4 linked regions of the Homo sapiens genome follow. The protein of the gene in region 1 interacts with the protein of each later gene in a pairwise test. Each region holds a gene or a part of one and is shown in the gene's direction. Other genes may lie near its edges.

The links. The genes of interacting proteins can lie anywhere in the genome.
Region 2: the proteins of DAPP1 (region 1) and TM4SF19 interact in a two-hybrid assay, tested with the Homo sapiens proteins (one large-scale study listed by BioGRID and IntAct).
Region 3: the proteins of DAPP1 (region 1) and MGARP interact in a two-hybrid assay, tested with the Homo sapiens proteins (one large-scale study listed by BioGRID and IntAct).
Region 4: the proteins of DAPP1 (region 1) and GSTCD interact in a two-hybrid assay, tested with the Homo sapiens proteins (one large-scale study listed by BioGRID and IntAct).

What each region holds. Positions count from the first base shown.
Region 1 is NC_000004.12:99,836,210-99,841,648, forward strand, and holds part of DAPP1 (dual adapter for phosphotyrosine and 3-phosphotyrosine and 3-phosphoinositide), read left to right. Parts: intron 1-4,079; coding exon 4,080-4,213; intron 4,214-5,439. UniProt on the Homo sapiens protein: May act as a B-cell-associated adapter that regulates B-cell antigen receptor (BCR)-signaling downstream of PI3K.
Region 2 is NC_000003.12:196,328,389-196,332,857, reverse strand, and holds part of TM4SF19 (transmembrane 4 L6 family member 19), read left to right. Parts: intron 1-4,469. UniProt on the Homo sapiens protein: Negatively regulates vacuolar (H+)-ATPase (V-ATPase) activity by interacting with members of V-ATPase V0 complex and hence inhibiting V1-V0 complex assembly. Required for multinucleation during osteoclast differentiation.
Region 3 is NC_000004.12:139,267,946-139,271,194, reverse strand, and holds part of MGARP (protein MGARP), read left to right. Parts: intron 1-2,429; coding exon 2,430-2,523; intron 2,524-3,249. UniProt on the Homo sapiens protein: Plays a role in the trafficking of mitochondria along microtubules. Regulates the kinesin-mediated axonal transport of mitochondria to nerve terminals along microtubules during hypoxia.
Region 4 is NC_000004.12:105,721,315-105,725,783, forward strand, and holds part of GSTCD (glutathione S-transferase C-terminal domain-containing protein), read left to right. Parts: intron 1-4,469.

The sequences.
Region 1 (5,439 bases):
GCTTTTCATATTGAGTCTCTATTTCTCCCAAATGGTAAGAAAGTTAATCCAGTCCCCACCAGGTTCATACAGCCAAATGCAGTCATTGTCCAGATCTTTCAGGTCCTCCCCACCTCACACCCCCTTCTTTCTGTCTGGTGCCCCAGATCAGAGAGGCTGACCAAGCTTCTGGTAGTCAGGGGAGGCGGCTGGTTCTCAGTCGCATCTGACACTCTGGCTTCCACTGACATGTAGCAAGTATTCTTGGGTTTTTAGGCGCTTCTCCATGGATTAGGCAGGGGATGTAAGGACTCCATGAAATTTCCCTCAGCCACCCACCCATTAAGCTCAAACTGTTATTGTGTTACTGTTCTGATGGCACCTCCATATACCCTGGAGAGTCACTCTTCCCTTCATAGTGCAGTTCCTCAAGCTAATCTGGCCTCAGAGGCTCTCTCACTTCTTTCCCAGTCTACACGGTCACTACTGGTCACTAACTCAGTAGCAGCATTCACATTGTCTCTTTGGGCTCTGGGCCTTGCTTCTATATTCATTTTCTATGCTACATAACAAATTATCAAAAACTTAGGGACTTAAAGCAACGCAACTGGATTATCTCACAGTTTCTGGCTGGATTCTCTGTCCAGGATCCTACCAGGCTGAAATAAAGGTGTTGGAGAAGCTTGTGGCTCTGATCTGGTATTTAGTGTCTTCTTCCTTCATTTTCTCCTTTCCTCTTCATCCTTTTTCATCCATTCCCTTGCTGCCGTAGAACTGAGGTCCTCCTTTTCCTTTTAGCTGTCAGCCAGGGGCCATTCTCAACTCCTAGACGCCACCCACAGTTCTTTGCCACATGGCACCCATGGCTGTTTACCACATGGGTGTTTGCTTTCTTGCATGCCAGCCAGAACACATCTCCCTGACTTTTTCTTCTGTGAGCAGCCAGAGAAAACTCTGTTTTACAGGGCTCATGTGATTAGTTCAGGCCCACTCAGATAATGTCCATATCTTAACATCAACTGACTTGGGACTTTATGACCTGCTAAATCCCTTCCCAGTAGCATGTAGACTAGTTTTTGATTGAATAATTGGGATAAAGTGTGTGTACTCCAGGGGCTGGGATTTGGGATCATCTTAGAATGCTGCCTGCCACAACTCCCATTCCTGGAACAGTGAAAATCTACAGGCCTACTTGAAGTGGGTGGGTGTGCGAAACAGGTAGAGGGTGATGGGGTAAGTAGGGGTCACAGAGGAAAAACAAGCATATTCATTAACATTTCTCATGTCACCCTGTTATATTTTATTTATAAATTTTCTGAATAACATAGATGAAAAAATTATTAATCCAAGATGGAATTCTGTTTGAGTGGCAACAAGAATTGTGCTTTCTCTGCTCAACAGCAAATGTTAAAAGTTCATCTAATGGTTAAGTTGTAGATGCTTTATTGCACACATCAGAGGTCCTCAACCTTTTTGGCACCAGGGACAATTTTGCCACAGACCGGAGCAGCGGCAGATGGTTTTGGGATGATTCAAGTGCATTACATTTATTGTGTGTTTTATTTTTGTTATTATTACACTGTAATGTATAATGAAATAATTATACAACTCACCATCATTCAGAATCAGTGGGAGCCCTGAACTTGTTTTCCTGCTACTAGATGGTCCCATCTGGGGGTGATGGGAGACAGTGACAGTTCGTCAGGCATTAGATTAACATCAGAGGCACACAGCCTAGATCCCTTGCATGTGCAGTTCACAATAGGGTTTGCACTCCTATGAGAATCTATTGCCTCTACTGATCTGATAGGAGGTGGAGCTCATTGAGAATGCAAACAATGGGGAGCAACTATAAATAAAAATGAGCTTCGCTAGCTCACCCATCACTCGTTTTCTTGCTACGTGGCTGGCAGGGGGATGGATGGGGACCCCTGGCATGAATCTTCCAAAAATGAAAAGTTAATTAACTTTTCACCTATGTATGTCTCATCTGAGCAATTAGATCATAAGCTTTTTATAAATCAATGACATACATATTTCATATACATAAAAAATAAAGAATAAATTATTGATTTTCATTGCAAGCACTAGAGAATGCTTATTAAAAAAATGACCAGCAGAGGTGACAAAAACCACAGACTAATTCAGGAGAATGACTATTTTTGTTTTATGAACAAATATTCACTTATTTGTTCATTCTTTTAATGATGAATATTTGAAAGCATTTATTCTGCACCAGCCACTTTGGTACGTGTTGTAGAACAGTGGTCCCCAACCTTTTTGGCACCAGGGGCTGGTTTTGTGGAAAATGCGGGTTCAGGATGAAACTGTTCCACCTCAGATCATCAGGTATTAGATTCTCATGAGGAGTGTGCCACCTAGATCCTTCACATGTGCAGTTCCCAATAGGGTTCAGGCTCCTGAGACTCTAATGCCATCACTGATCTGACAGGAGGCAGAGCTCAGGCAGTAATGCTTGCTCACCCACTGCTCACCTCCTGCTGTGCGGCCTGGTTCCTAACAGGTACCCAGTCTGCAGCCCCAGGATAGGGGATCCCTGCTGTAGAAGATTGAAATACCTTATTTTGGGGAATTACAGCCTCACAGAGCCAAAAAGACCACATACAAGTAACATACTACAAAGTAGAGGTTGACAAATAACATAAAAGAAAGCAAGATAAGTGTTTAGGTGGTTCAGAAGGGAAAAAGCAGTTAACTTAAGCTGGAATTATCATGTAATACTTGACAGAGGAGGTGGTACTTGAACTGCACCTTAATGAGTGGCTGGGATTTCTACCAGCAGAGACAAAGAGAAAGACCGTTTCAGGAAAAAGGAACAGTATGAACTAAGGGACAGAAGTGGAAACTCCTTGAAGAGCAGTAGATCCAGTTGGACTAGGGCAGCTGTTCTAAAGGTGTGGTCCCCAGACCAGGTGTGTCACCTAAGAACATGCTAGGAATGCACAGTCTCAGGCCCCACCTTGGATCTACCGAATCTCAATCTGCAGGGGTGGAGGTGGAGGTGGCAGCAAGCTGGGTTCTCACAAGCCCATCAGATGATTCTGAAGCATGCTAACATGGTAGCATGGGCTGCACTGAGAGTAATAGCAGGAAGTGAGGCTAGAAAGATAGAATGGGATCAAATAAAGTGGAGAGGCAGATATATATATATAGATATATATAGATATCTATAGATATATATAGATTAGATATCTATAGATATATATATAGATATATATATATTGTTTAATACTCTGCCTCATTTCAAAAATGAAGTGGAAAATGACAATGTAGGAAATTTGATATTTTATTCAGTAGGCAGTGGAACATGCACGGGAGGAAAAGGGCTAGGCTCACGTAACTAATCAAGCGACAGAGCTGAATTCTGATTGACTCCCAAACAAGCAAGGGAGAAAAGCCCAAGGCAGAGGAGAGTGTGGTGAGGGTGTCATATGTCATTTCTATCATTCCTATTCTCTGCCCTTCTTAAACTCATGCCCCTTAGCAGCATAATGTTCAAGGACTCTTTTGGTAAGTCTAGGAGTAGATAGGGAGAACAGTCTCTTGTCTTCCATTAGAGTGAAAAGTTGAGGCTGGGCGTGGTGGCTAACGCCTGTAATCTCAACACTTTGGGAAGCCGAGGCAGGAGGATCACCTGAGGTCAGGAGTTCAAGACAAGCCTGGCCAACATGGCAAAACCCAGTCTTTACTAAATATACAAAAATTAGCCAGGCATCGTGGCAGACACCTATAATCCCAGATACTCAGGAGGCTGAGGCCAGAGAATCACTTGAATCCAGGAGGCGGAGGTTGCAGTGAGCCTAGATCATGCCACTGCACTCCAGCCTGGGGGACAGAGCAAGACTCTGTCTCAAAATAGTAAATAAATAAATGAATTAATTAATTAATAAAAGTTGAAAAGAGCAAACTCTGCCAAAAGAAACTAGTGATGCTATTTAAAACTGTCAGTGGTTTCAATGATTGCCTAATTCTCAGTTCTTATAAAGGGTTAATAGTGATGCTAACATCTGAGATCATATTTCCCTTCAACAAGATATTTATTTGTTAAATAATATTAAATACTTCTTTTTCCCTTTTAGGGCCAAAGATTCTGTTAAACACTTTCATGTTGAATATACTGGATATTCATTTAAATTTGGCTTTAATGAATTCTCATCTTTGAAGGATTTTGTCAAGCATTTTGCAAATCAGCCTTTGATTGGAAGCGAGACAGGTAAGCTATGAGCAGACACTTGACTTATGAAATAATGTTTCGGGATGGAGGAGAGACAAGGCAGATTTCAATTTAAGAATGTCATTGTTGTCATTTATATTTCAGCATTATCTTGAAGAGAAAACAATGTATTTTGTATAAAGTAGATATTTTCTCAGAATGTGTTACTTAATGGATTGATTAAAAGCACACAATTTCTTTAAAATGGGCTCACCATTTTAAAATAACATATACAATACACACAAAAAGAACAAAGGTAAAAATGACTTTTTGATTACTCATAATTTCAGATATAGGCAGTTTGCATATGAGTGAGACCCACAGAAGTAAATTTTGAGCATTTTAAAAACTAAAATTCCCACTTAAATGTTCACAGAGATCACTGAATATTGAAAATATTAACTAGGAAGCACTCTCCTAAGTTATAAAATTCTGTTTCTATTGTCACGGTTTTTTAAATAAGATTTTAAGCTAGACTTAACTATGGCTGGAAAAGTTTGAATTTTCCTGTTTGAATGGTTAGAGAATTAAACCAGAAAAAAATTCATGTGTAAAGAAAAAAAACACAAAAAACAGTCTATCTTGGCACTTGAATTATCTAAGATTGAACATCTTGTTTATTTATATTATTTTAATGAAGTAAAATATCATCCCTGTATTTGTGATATAGAATCACAACACTTTTGTCCTAAATAATGATAAATCTTAGTTAATCAAAGACTAGGAAATTCCAAGAACCTGCGGCACAAGAGGAACTCAAGACTTAATAACACAACCAGTTACCATGAGTTTGTACATACGTGTTTTCTTGGCAAACTTGCCAGTGGGCTTTCTGTTAACTTCAGTGTGATGGGAAGAGATGGCATCATTGGCTTCTGTCTTTTCTGCTATTTATGTGGTGTGGGTAGTCCCTGATGTGACTCACACAGTGTCTAGTATACATGAAGTGCACAGCGGAAACTAGAAAATAGTTGCTCTGCTTTATACTGACCACACCAAGCCCAAGAAAGAATAACCCAAACTACGAAATGAAGTTATAACCTTTTTTTCCTTCTTTCTCCTGGTATAAATTCTCCCAATCAACCCTGAAAATTACTTCACCATTTAACAAGCAGTTGTTCCCATGAACAAATGGCCAGTGGAGGTGTATTTATTTCCACTGCTACCTTGGCCTTGGCAAGCATTTCAGTTTCTCAAATCCCTACACTTCAGTCTCCTTTCCTGCT
Region 2 (4,469 bases), on another chromosome or scaffold:
AAAAAAAAATTGTAAGTTGAACCATTGTGAGTCAGGGACAGTCTACTGTGTTGCCAGCATTAAATGCCTTTTGAACTTAGGATATTTTGACTTACAACGGGTTTATAGGAGTTCGACCCCATCATAAGTGGAGAAGCATCTGAATATACAGAGTTTGGTATGATCTGTGGTTTCAGGTATCCGCTGGAGCTCTTGGAACATATCCCCTGCAGATATGGGGGACTATTGTGTGTGTGTGTGTGTGTACGTACACACATATATACGCACATTATACATTATATGTATATGATATATATGTGTGTGTGCATATATATAGAGCCTCTGATCCATATCTTTTATATATATATATATTTTTTTTCTTCCCTTCCCCTTCCCCTTCCTCTTTCCTTCCTTCCTTTCCTTTCTTCCTTCCTCCCTCCCTCCCTCCCTCTCTCCCTCCTCTCTCTCTCTCTCTTTTGCTCTGTCACCCAGGCTGGAGTGCAGTGGCGTGATCTGGGCTCACTGCCACCTCTGCCTCTCGGGCTCAAGCGATTCTCCTGCCTCAAGCTCCTGAGTAGCTTGGATTACAGGCGCACACCACCACGCAGTTAATTTTTTTTTTTTGAGACCGAATCTCACTCTCTTGCCCAGGCTGGAGTGCACTGGCGTGATCTCAGCCCCCCAGGTTCACGCCATTCTACTGCCTCAGCCTCCCGAGTAGCTGGGACCACAGGCACCCGCCACCATGCCCAGCTAATTTTTTTGTATTTTTAGTAGAGACGGGGTTTCACCATGTTGGCCAGGTTGGTCGGAAACTCCTGACCTCGTGATCCACCCACCTCAGCCTCCCAAAGTGCTGGGGTTACAGGCGTGAGCCACCGTGCCTGGCCTCTATACACATATTTTCTGATTAGGTGCAAAGCAGTGTGTTATAGGCGTGTCAAGAGCCTCAAGTGGCCAAGTGCAGTGGCTCACGCCTGTCATCCTAGCACTTTAGGTGTCTGAAGTGGGAGGGCCCTTGAGCCAAGGAGTTTGAGACCAGCCTGGGCCACATAAGGAGACCTCACCTCTATTACATTTTTTTTTCTTCTGAGACGGAGTTTCACTCTTGTTGTCCAGGCTGGAGTGCAGTGGCGTAATCTCGGCTCACTGCAACCTCCACCTCCCGGGTTCAAGTGATTCTCCTGCCTCAGCCTTCCGAGTAGCTGGGATTACAGGCATGCGCCACCACGCCCGGCTAGTTTTGTATTTTTAGTAGAGATGGGGTTTCGTCATGATGGCCAGGCTGGTCTTGAACTCCTGACCTCAGGTGATCTGCCGGCTTTGGCCTCCCAAAGTGCTGGGATTACAGGCGTGAGCCACTGCACCCGGCTAAAAATAAATTTTTTTCAATAAAAAATAAATAAATAAATTAAATAAATAAATAAATAGCGAGCCTTAAGGGGAGACAGACGTGTAACTGAACTGCACAGTGGGAACAGGCCACTTCCTGGGGATGTCATGACGCTGACTTTTTTCAGATCCACATTGACATGAGTCTGCCCAAATATTACTAGTCCTATTTTAATTCATATATATATGTATATATATATATTTTTTTTTTAGATAGAGCTTCACTCTTGTTTCCTGGGCTGGAGTGCAATGGCACGATCTCTGCTCACTGCAACTTCTGCCTCCTGGGCTCAAGCGATTCTGCTGCCTCAGCCACCCGAGTAGCTGGGATTACAGGTGCCTGCCACCACGTCCAGCAATTTTTTTGTATTTTTTAATAGAGACACGGTTTCACCATGTTGACCAGGCTTATCTCAAACTCCTGACATCAGGCGATCCACCTGCCTTGGCCTCCCAAAGTGCTGGGATTACAGGTGTAAGTCACCGTGCCCGGCCTTAATTCATATTTTTCTAAAAAACAAGAAGTTCACATATCAATGAAAATATAAAAGAGAGGAACATAAGGAGTGGAAGAGGCATTTTATAATTTATCTAGATATGACATTTTAATTGTAATTAGCTTTATTGATATATAGTTAAAATTCAATAAAATTCACCTATTTTAAGTGCAAAGTTTAATGAGTTTTGTCAATATGTACAGTTATGTATTCACCACCAGAATCTAGACACAGAATGCTTCCACCCCTTCAGAAAGCTTCCCATGCCCCATACTAATCCTCTTTCCCATTCTCAGCCCATGGCAACCGCTCATCTGCTCTCCGTTAAAAGTTTTGCCTTTTCTAGAATTTCGTATATATAGAAACATGTGAGTAGTCTTTTGTTTCTGGCTTCTTCCACTTAACACAATGCTTTTGAGATTCATCCATGTTATATGTAGCAGAAATTTACGCATTTTATTACCTAATAGAACTCATTTGTATGGATAACACAATTTGTCTTGATTCACCTATTGATTACTGATAAGGATTTGAGTAATCACAAATTTTTTAATTGATTTTTTATTGTGGTAAAGTAACATCAGATTTGTCATTTTAACCATTTTAAAGTGTATAATTCAGTGACATTAATTACATTTGCAATGATGTGCAACCATTACCATTATCTATTTCCAAAACTTTTCTTCACCCCAAACAGAAAGTCTGTAACCCTTAAACCGTGGGCAGTGGCCCAGATCTGGTCATAGCTACTCTGGAGGCACGGGCTGGAGGATCATTTGAGTCCAGGAGTTGAAGACCAGCTGGGGTAACATAGTGAGACTGCATCTCTAAAAAAACCCCAAAACCACCGCGCGCGGTGGGAGGCCGAGGCGGGCAGATCACCTGAGGTCAGGAGTTCAAGACCAGCCTGGCCAACATAGTGAAACCCTGTCTCTACTAAAAATACAAAAATTAGCCAGGCGTGGTGGCACATGCCTGTAGTCCCAGCTACTTGGGAGGCTGAGGCAGGAGAATTGCTTGAGCCCAGGAGGCAGAGGTTGCAGTGAGCTGAGATTGCGCCACTGCACTCCAGCCTGGCTGACAGAGCAAGACTCTGTCTCAAAAAAAAAAAACAAAACAACACAAAACAAAACCTGAAAACCTCTGTAACCATTAAACAATAACTCCCCATTCTCTCCTCCCTCCCCACAGTCCCTGATAACCTCCAGTCTACTTTCTTTCTCTATAAAGTTGTTATTTTGAATATTTCATATAAGTGGAATCATACAATATTTGTCCTTTAGTGTCTGGCTTATTTCTTTTAGCATGATTTTTTTTTTTTAGATGGAGTCGCTTGCTCTTGTCGCCCAGGCTGAAGTGCAGTGGCGCGATCTCAGCTCACTGCAGCCTCTGCCTCCTGGGTTCAAGCGATTTTCCTGCCTCAACCTCCGAGTAGCTGGGATTATAGGCAAGCACCCAGCTGACATTTAAATTTTTAAGCAGTCTGATTAATCATGTTTTGTGGATTGTACTTTTTGCATTTTAGTAAGAAACCTTTATCTAACCCAAGGTCCCAGTGTTTTTCTCCTTTGTTTTATTCTAGAAATTTTATAAAGCTTTTAGACCCATGCTCCATTTCAAGTGAATTTTTGAATATGTTGTGAAGTAATAGTGAAGGCAGTTTTGTTTTGCATGTGCATTGTTCCGGCACCATTTGTGGAAGAGACTTTTTCCCGCTGAATTGTCATCTTCTTAAAAAATCATTTATTGGCCGGGCGCGGTGGCTCATGCCTGTAATCCCAGCACTTTGGGAGCCCGAGACAGGCGGATCACGAGGTCAGGAGATCAAGACCGTCCTGGCTAACACGGTGAAACCCCGTCTCTACTAAAAATACAAAAAATTACCGGGCATGGTGGCGGGCACCTGTAATCCCAGCTACTTGGGAGGCTGAGGCAGGAGAATCGCTTGAACCTGGGAGGCAGAGGTTGCAGTGAGCTGAGATCGCGCCACTGCACTCCAGCCTGAGCAACAGAGCGAGACTCCGTCTCAAGAAAAAAAAAAAATCATTTTTCCTGGACCGGGTCTGTTTCTGAGCTCCAGCCTGTTCCAGTAGTCCATATGTGTTTCCTTACGCGTGGCTTCAGTGTCTTCAATTACTGTAGCTTTGTAAGTCTTGAAATCACATGGCGTAAGTTCTCCAGCTTTGTTTGTTTTTCAGAATTGCTTTGGCTAATCTTCACAATTGCTTTGCATTTCCATATAAATTTAGATTCAGTTTGTCAATTTCTATAACAAAACTCTCCTAGGATTTTGACTGATATTGCTTTAAATCTTTGCATCAATTTAGGGAGAACATGTTAACTATTTTGAGTCTTCTGGTTCAGGAACATGGTATATGTCTCCATTTATTTAGGTCTCCATTAATTTTCTCAGCAATGCTTTGCAATTCTTACTATATAGGTCTTGCAAATATTTTGTTAAATTCATCCATATGTATTATATTTTTATGCTATTGTAAATGATATATTTTAATTTCAATCCTCAATTTGTCATTGCTTGTATATAGAAATACAATATAATTTTTGTATATTAATCTTTTATTCTATGACGTTGCTAAACTC
Region 3 (3,249 bases), about 39 Mb from region 1:
TAGTATATTTTAAATGCTTATACTTAATAAATACTTAATATCATTTGTAAATAACTGCCAAAGTCTAAATTTGAGACCCTCTCTTTTAATAGGCCTTTATTCTACTCTGTGCTCGACTGTGCTGGATTTGGAAAACCTAGATTCTTTGGGCCACACATTAGGGTGAATTATTCTAGTATTGTATCTCTTCAATTCTCCCTAAAGTTAGTCTTTTTTCTTGCCTTGTGTTTTAGCCCCTTGAGCAATGAGACTAATGTCCCTTGGAATGTTGTTCCTGGAATGATCCTTTCAGGGATGTGAACTTGTGTACTGGTTCGGTTTGTGTACTGAGAACTGGGGATACTGACTTATCATATTGGTCCTACAAGGTGTCAGGAACACACACCCTACTCGGAAAATATTCCTTGCTTTTATACAGAAAATGTTGATTATCATTCCCGTTGATCATATTTGCTCTGTATGTTTCAAAGCCAAATGATTCAAGTCTGAGTTCACTAAACCCCGGGAAGTTTGCTATAAAAGGGTCACTTTACATCACTTCTACCCGACATTATAGATTTTCTTTTCTTTTTTTTTTTTTTTTTTTCAGACGCGGTCTCGCTCTGTCGCCCAGGCTGGAGTGCAGTGGTACGATCTCTGCTCACTGCAAGCTCCACCTCCTGGGTTCACGCCATTCTCCTGCCTCAGCCTCCCGAGTAGTTGGGACTACAGGCGCCCGCCACCACTCCTGGCTAATTTTTTGTACTTTTTGTAGAGATGGGGTTTCACCATGTTAGCCAGGATGGTCTCCATCTCCTGACCTCATGATCCGCCTGCCTCGGCCTCCCAAAGTGCTGCGATTACAGGCTTGACCCAGATTTTCTTTTCTTTTCTTTCTTTCTTTTTTTTTTTTTTTTGAGACGGAGTTTCCCTCCTTTCCCAGGCTGGAATGCAATGGTGCGATCTCGGCTCACTGCAACCTCTGCCTACAGGGTTCAAGTGATTCTCCTGCCTCAGCCTCCCGAGTAGCTGGGATTACAGGCATGCGCCACCACGCCCGGCTAATTTTGTATTTTTAGTAGAGACCAGATTTCTCATGTTGGTCAGGCTGGTCTCAAACTCCCGACCTCAGGTGATCCGCTGGCCTCAGCCTCCCAAAGTGCTGGGATTACAGGTGTGGACCATTGCACCCGGCCCCGACATTACAGACATTCTATTTTCACAGCATAATTTTTACACTGTAAAATTGTTTGTAATTAAGTAGTACAATTTTTAAATAAGGTACTTGGTTTCTGATGGTTAAAAATTTAGAAGACACTATATATAAATAAATTTTAGAAATCTATCATCTTACCATTAAAAGTTAAACCACTACCAACATTTTCTTAAAAGCTAAATTAATACAAACAATAGTAACTGAATAATGAGATTTTCATTTTTTATATCATTTTCTAATATGAATACAGGCCAAAGAAGACTACTTAAATATAAAATGAAAGGAAGCCTGCACATTTTGTCTGTGATTAAAATAGCTTTCTTCCCAATACTGTTTCTTTCTTTCTTTTTTCTTTTTTTTTTTTTTTTTGAGATGGAGTCTTGCTCTGTCGCCCAGGGTGGAGTGCAATGGCATGATCTCGGCTCACTGCAACCTCCACCTCCTGGGTTCAAGCAATTCTCCCACCTCAGCCTTCTGAGTAGCTAGGGCTACAGGCGAGCACCACCACCATGCCTGGCTGTTTTTGTATTTTTAGTAGAGATGGGGTTTCACCATGTTGGCCAGACTGGTCTCGAACTCCTGACTTCAGGTGATCCACCCACCTCAGCCTCCCAAAGTGCTGGGATTACAGGCATGAGCCACCGCACCCGGCCTGATTCCAGTTTTTGACTATTACAAATAAAGGTACCATGAACATTTGTGTACAGGTTTTCATGTGAACCTAGATTTCCATTTCTCAAGGATAAATGCTAGAAAATATTTGTATATGCCTGTCAGGATATTCTGGTTGTAGCATAATTCATTTTTTTCTTCCTTGTTTTTAGTTATCTTTGGCTAAGATAGTGCATCTATTTCCTTCCCTTTTTAAAAAGTTTTATTTTAGGTTAAGGTGTACATGTGCAGGTTTGTTAATAGGTAAATTATGTGTCATGGGGGTTTGATGTATAGATTGATTTGTCACCCAGGTAATAAGTATGGTACCCAATAGGTAGTTTTTCTCTCCTCATCCCCTGTCTCACCTTTCTTCCTTTTTAAAGCATTCTATTTAATAACAAAGATTTCCAAAAGGGAAGTAAAAGAGTAAGTGGTGTGCACTGATTTCTCTTCTTTGCTACACTGGGATTATGGTTTAAACTTCTAATGGTGATTACAGGGAGACTTGAGTGTACCTTTGGATGTGGCGTGACAAATCTTAAAGCTCAAGAAATAAACCTAAGCATACATTTACTTTCAGGCTTACAAGACAGTCACATCAGACCAAGCCAAACACACAGAACATAAAACAAATTTGAAAGAAAAAACAAAAGCAGAGATACATCCATTTCAAGGTAAATGAATTTCTTAATTTTTTATTTTTATTTATTTTTTGAGGCACTAATTTCCATCCACTTAGTCTAGCAATGAACACTATTTGCTTTTGGCTTCTTTCCTAGCTTAATCCAGAATGACTCTAGGTATAAGTTCATTTAGAAAGGAAAAGTTCAACTGAAACCTGAAGAACACTGTTACACCTTTTGGATGAATGCATTTGACAAATGAATGTTTTACATTTATATTGCTGACCAGTGACTTTTGACTCCTTTGTGTGGTAATATTATTTTCCCCTGCTCAGGCATCCACCCATGCAGGCATGAGCTTTCATTTTTCTCATTATCTAAAAATAATAATATAACAAATTATCTTTCAGTTTTGGCTAAGACCACCTGTGTGCCTTTGTGCAAACAAGGTACATTTGACATAATAGAATCAGTTGTGTATAATGAGTCCTTCAGTTGATAAAATGGTGACCATGGGAACAGAAACTTTATATTTTCACTCTTTCCTTCCTTCCTACACTTCTTTTTCCCACCCTCCCTTCCTTCCCCCTTCCTTTCCCCCTTCCCTCCACGGGCTCTCCCTCTGTCAACCAGGCTGGAGTGCAGTGGTGCAATCATAGCCTACTGCAGCCTTGAACTCCTGGGCTCCAGCAATCTTCCCATCACAGCCTCTCAAGCAACTAGGACTACAAGCATGCACCGCTACACCCAGCAAATTTATTTTTTATGTTTTGCAGA
Region 4 (4,469 bases), 5.9 Mb from region 1:
TAATTCATATAGTGGTTATGTTGGCAAGCCTTTTTGCTTGCATTAACATACATTGAGGTGAATGGAGTGGCCATCCAAATGATCAGAATCAGGATCAAGTTCAACATCCGTAATCAAGGTCAAGTTACCAGAAACATAAAACTGAATCTAGGGACAGAATATTTAGTCGCAGGAATAAAGTCAAGGACATAAAAGTAAGAGTCAATTTTGCTAAATCAAGGTTTGAATTACTAAGGGTCAAAATTAGAAGAACTAGGGAAAATACCCAGTTCTGCTAAACAGAATAAAACCAAAGATGGAAAACAATAACAAGTAGAATCGATGAGGTGTTTTTTTTGTTTTTTTTTAATTTGTCAGAGACAAACATGGAAATGCTAAGGTATTATATATAAACCTGCTGCAAGCTCTTCCTTTTCAGAAAATACTTTATTACTTTACAAAGTTAACCCCTGATGGCTCAGCACCTCATAAGGAAAGGGGCCTGACGATACCCTCTCCTCTGAAAAGTCTTAGAAATAGATTTAAAAGGAATAAATTAATATGTACACTCATGTTTCCCCCCATTCAATTTATTTGCTAGAATTTTCTAGTAGATAGCGTATCAACATTATGGGAGAAATAGCAATGAATAGCTATACTAGGGCAAAATCCTACTGTTCCAATACTAGAAGATTGTATATTATTTTTCAGTTGCTACTAGTAAGCAAGTACACTTTGACAGAAATATTTAAAACATTATTGTACGCCTATAAGACAGAAAGTTGCATTTTATCATTTTATAAAATCTTGTAATTTGACCACTTATGATTTAATTTTCTACATTTTAACTTCTAATGCTTTGAATTGAGTTTAAATACACACATACACACACACACACAGACATCTTTATTAGCTTAGGTAAAATCATTCCTCTTTTAGAAATTGATTTTTTAGCAAAACTAAATACCTCTTCCTGTGTTCCCATCGGCATAAAGTTGGGAACCTCACTTTTTGCTGGCATATTGCAAAAATGGTTGATGCCACTTATTTAGTGGTAAATTTGTATTTTCTGTGTCTATTCCTATTCATTAGGTCCTCAAGAGCTTTTAGCTTTAACTCACTAGTTCTAATTTATAAGTAAAAAACAGAGAGCTGGGATTATATTTTCATTTAGATAGGTTGTTTACTGTTTTTTCTCTGCTTACACTGCTCACCTAAACATCTGTGAGTATATTTTCAAAAAAGGAAGTATGACTAAGGAAATGATATAAAATAAGAACAAATATTTTATATAGTAAGTGATTGTAAAGGAATGCAAAGGAGGAGATATTTTGAATAGATGCAACATCTTGCTTCTCTTTTTATTCTGACAAATTTTTCTGCCCTTTATTGACAATTAACTACAGAGTTACTAAAATTTTATTTTTGCTTTGATAGCTATGCTTTTTTTTTAAACCTTTGTTTTAAAAATAGATCATCTTTTTTTTTTCTTGTCCTTAAAGAACTCTGTGATATTTATAATGGTTTTGATCTTATGAGCCAGGTAACTATTTGGTAATCATTCCTTATGAAGAAATTTAATTTTCATTTCACAGAGTTTTCATTAGCAACTTCCTTAAATATATCTTCATGAGTGTAATGAATGTGGTTCAGTACCTTCTGAGCTATCTGGATATTAGTAGAGTGGCCTGGCATGTTGATAAATGGAGTGACCTGTCAGAGTAAACCTCCTCAATTTCTTGTAAACATGAATTATTGTTATTTAATTGCAACTTCATTTCAAAAGAAAGGAAAGATGCCACGTACATCTAACAAATAAAAATAAGTCACTAGAACGAAGAGTACAGGAAAGATGAGGAAAAGAGAAAATTTCTTGTGTGATTATCATGTCTAAAGATCCATTCCCTTAGCACCTAATCTATTTCCAAGCAATTCACAATTCTTGAGAGAATTAATAAACTTTTTGGCTCTCAGGGTACCTTAGAGAGTATTTTTCAAACTTTTTTTTTACTTTAACTCAGTAAATACAGATGGCCTTCCATATCCATTGGTTCTGTATTCATGTATTCAACCAACCGCAGATTTAAAATATTTGGAAAAAAAATTGCATCTGTACTGAACATGTACTGACTTTTTTCTTGTCGTGATCCCCTAAACAATACAGAATAACAATTATTTGCACAGTGTTTATATTGTATTAGGTATTAGAAGTAATCTAGGATTTAAAGTATAGGAGAGGATGTGTATAGGTTATATGCAAATACTATACCATTTTATATCAAGGACATGAGTATGAGTATCTGTGGATTTGGGTTTCTGATACAGGTCTTGGAACCAATCCTCCATGGATACTGAGGGACAACTGTAATACATTTTACAAGTTGGATAATTATAGAAATAAATGTATATCTTTAAATAATATGTAAAAAAATATATAAATAATTACAAAATAACTTATAGGATGTGTACTCTGATATTTTCTATTTCATTTTTTAAAAACCTACTATGTTGATTTCACAACCCCTAAATGAGTGATAAATAGCAACTTGAAAAATACTGACTGAGGGGATTACTCTCTGAAGGTAACAAATGGATTCTTTATCATTTGTTCATTCACTCAACAGGGTATTATTTGCAAGGCAGTGTTTTAAGTGCTTCAGTATTCAAAGAGAGTTACAGTCCTTGTTCTTATAATCAATTACTTGTGCTCATTTAATCTTAAAGTCCACTTAAAATACAGTATAATATATATGTATGAATTTTTTATTTTCTGTCCTTTCTGTCTCATGCTCTGATATTATTGTGAAATATATCTGTAGAGATTTCCTGTGACTTGACCTTTTTATTTAAAGGTCATAATCTGTTCATAATCTGTTCATAATCATAAGTCATAATGTGTTTGAGACATCATAATGGTTTCTACGGAAACATTTGTTGCCTCTCAAAGAAGCAAGAACACTCTAAATTTTCAAGAAAATAGAATTTGGTGGTAGTGCTAGGGAGAAAGCATCTGACCAAGAGAAAACAAAAATATATGAGTTTGTATCAGGAAGAACAATTTAAAATTTTTCTAATTTGAAAAAATAAAAGTCTTACTTTAAGTGCTGCTTTATAAAAAAAAAATTCTATAGTGCTAGTTATCTTTTTTAGTTTTAAATATTTACAATTTTCTCTTTTATCTTTTTACTATTTTCTTTAGTAAAATGTTCTCCTTACCTCATTGTGTAATTTTTAAAAATATGGTTCTGAAAGATGCTTCTTACATTATTGGTAAGGAATATCATTTAGATTATGCCTAATAGTTCACACATACAGAGAAGGTAGTTTCACAAACACAAAAAAATGGAACTTTAGATCATTATTAATAGTACAAGCTCTCCATTTTTACACTTCTGCAGTGAGCTACAAAATTTCTATGAGACCCCTCAAAATACATCAATGATTGCAGACTACAGATATTAAATTGTGATAATTTAAACGTGTTACATTATTTGTGTTGAGGAATTTAATACTTATTTTAATTCTTTCCCCATTAAACAGTTAAACTAATTTGCATAAGTATATATTAAGGATTTTAGGTTTTTGATATAATGTTGTCCAATTAACTCTCTATATGCAGTGTGTTAAGAACTTATCAAGTATATAGAGGGTCAGGAACAGAGGAATGTGTTCATGGCCATGAATTATAGATGAAAGGGTTTCCAGATTGGAATGCAGTTGATTATAGAGGAGTTCTTAGAGAGGGGTAAAAACATACTACCAATGAAAGATGTAGACAATTGAATATAAGATGTAAAGTTTTCCAAAATGATTTTCAGTTGTACTGTTTATAGACATTTGCAAATGCCATTGTTATTTATATTGATTCTTTTTGGAATTATTGTATTCTTCTTTTTCTATTGATGGTTGTTTTCCATTGTATAGCTGTACCACAGTTTATCCATTCATCTACTGAAGGGCATCTTGGTTAATTCCAAGTTTTGGCAATTATGAATAAAGATGCTATTAACATCTATCTGTGTTCAGGTTTTTGTGTGGACATAAATGTTCAACTCATTTGAAGCACAATTACTGGATTGTATGGTAAGAGTATATTTACCTTTGTAAGGAACTACCAAACTGTCTTTCAAAGTGGCTGTACTATTTTTCATTCCCACCAGCAGTAAATGAGAGTTCCTGTTGTTCCACATGCGCACCATCATTTGGAGTTGTCAGTGTTTTGGGTTTTTGCCATTCTGATAGGTGGCATTTCCTTGTTTTAACTTGTAATTCTCTAATGATATATGATGCTGAGCATTTTTTTTATATACTTAGTTGCCATCTGTGTATCTTTTTTGGTTGTCTACTCAGATCTTTTGCTCATTTTAATTGTGTTGTTCATTTTCTCGTTGCTGAGTTGCTCCAATTTTTATGCTATGAAATGAATCATAAAAACGTATAAGACACATCACTAAAGAAGATACACAAATGGCAAATAATCACATGAAAAG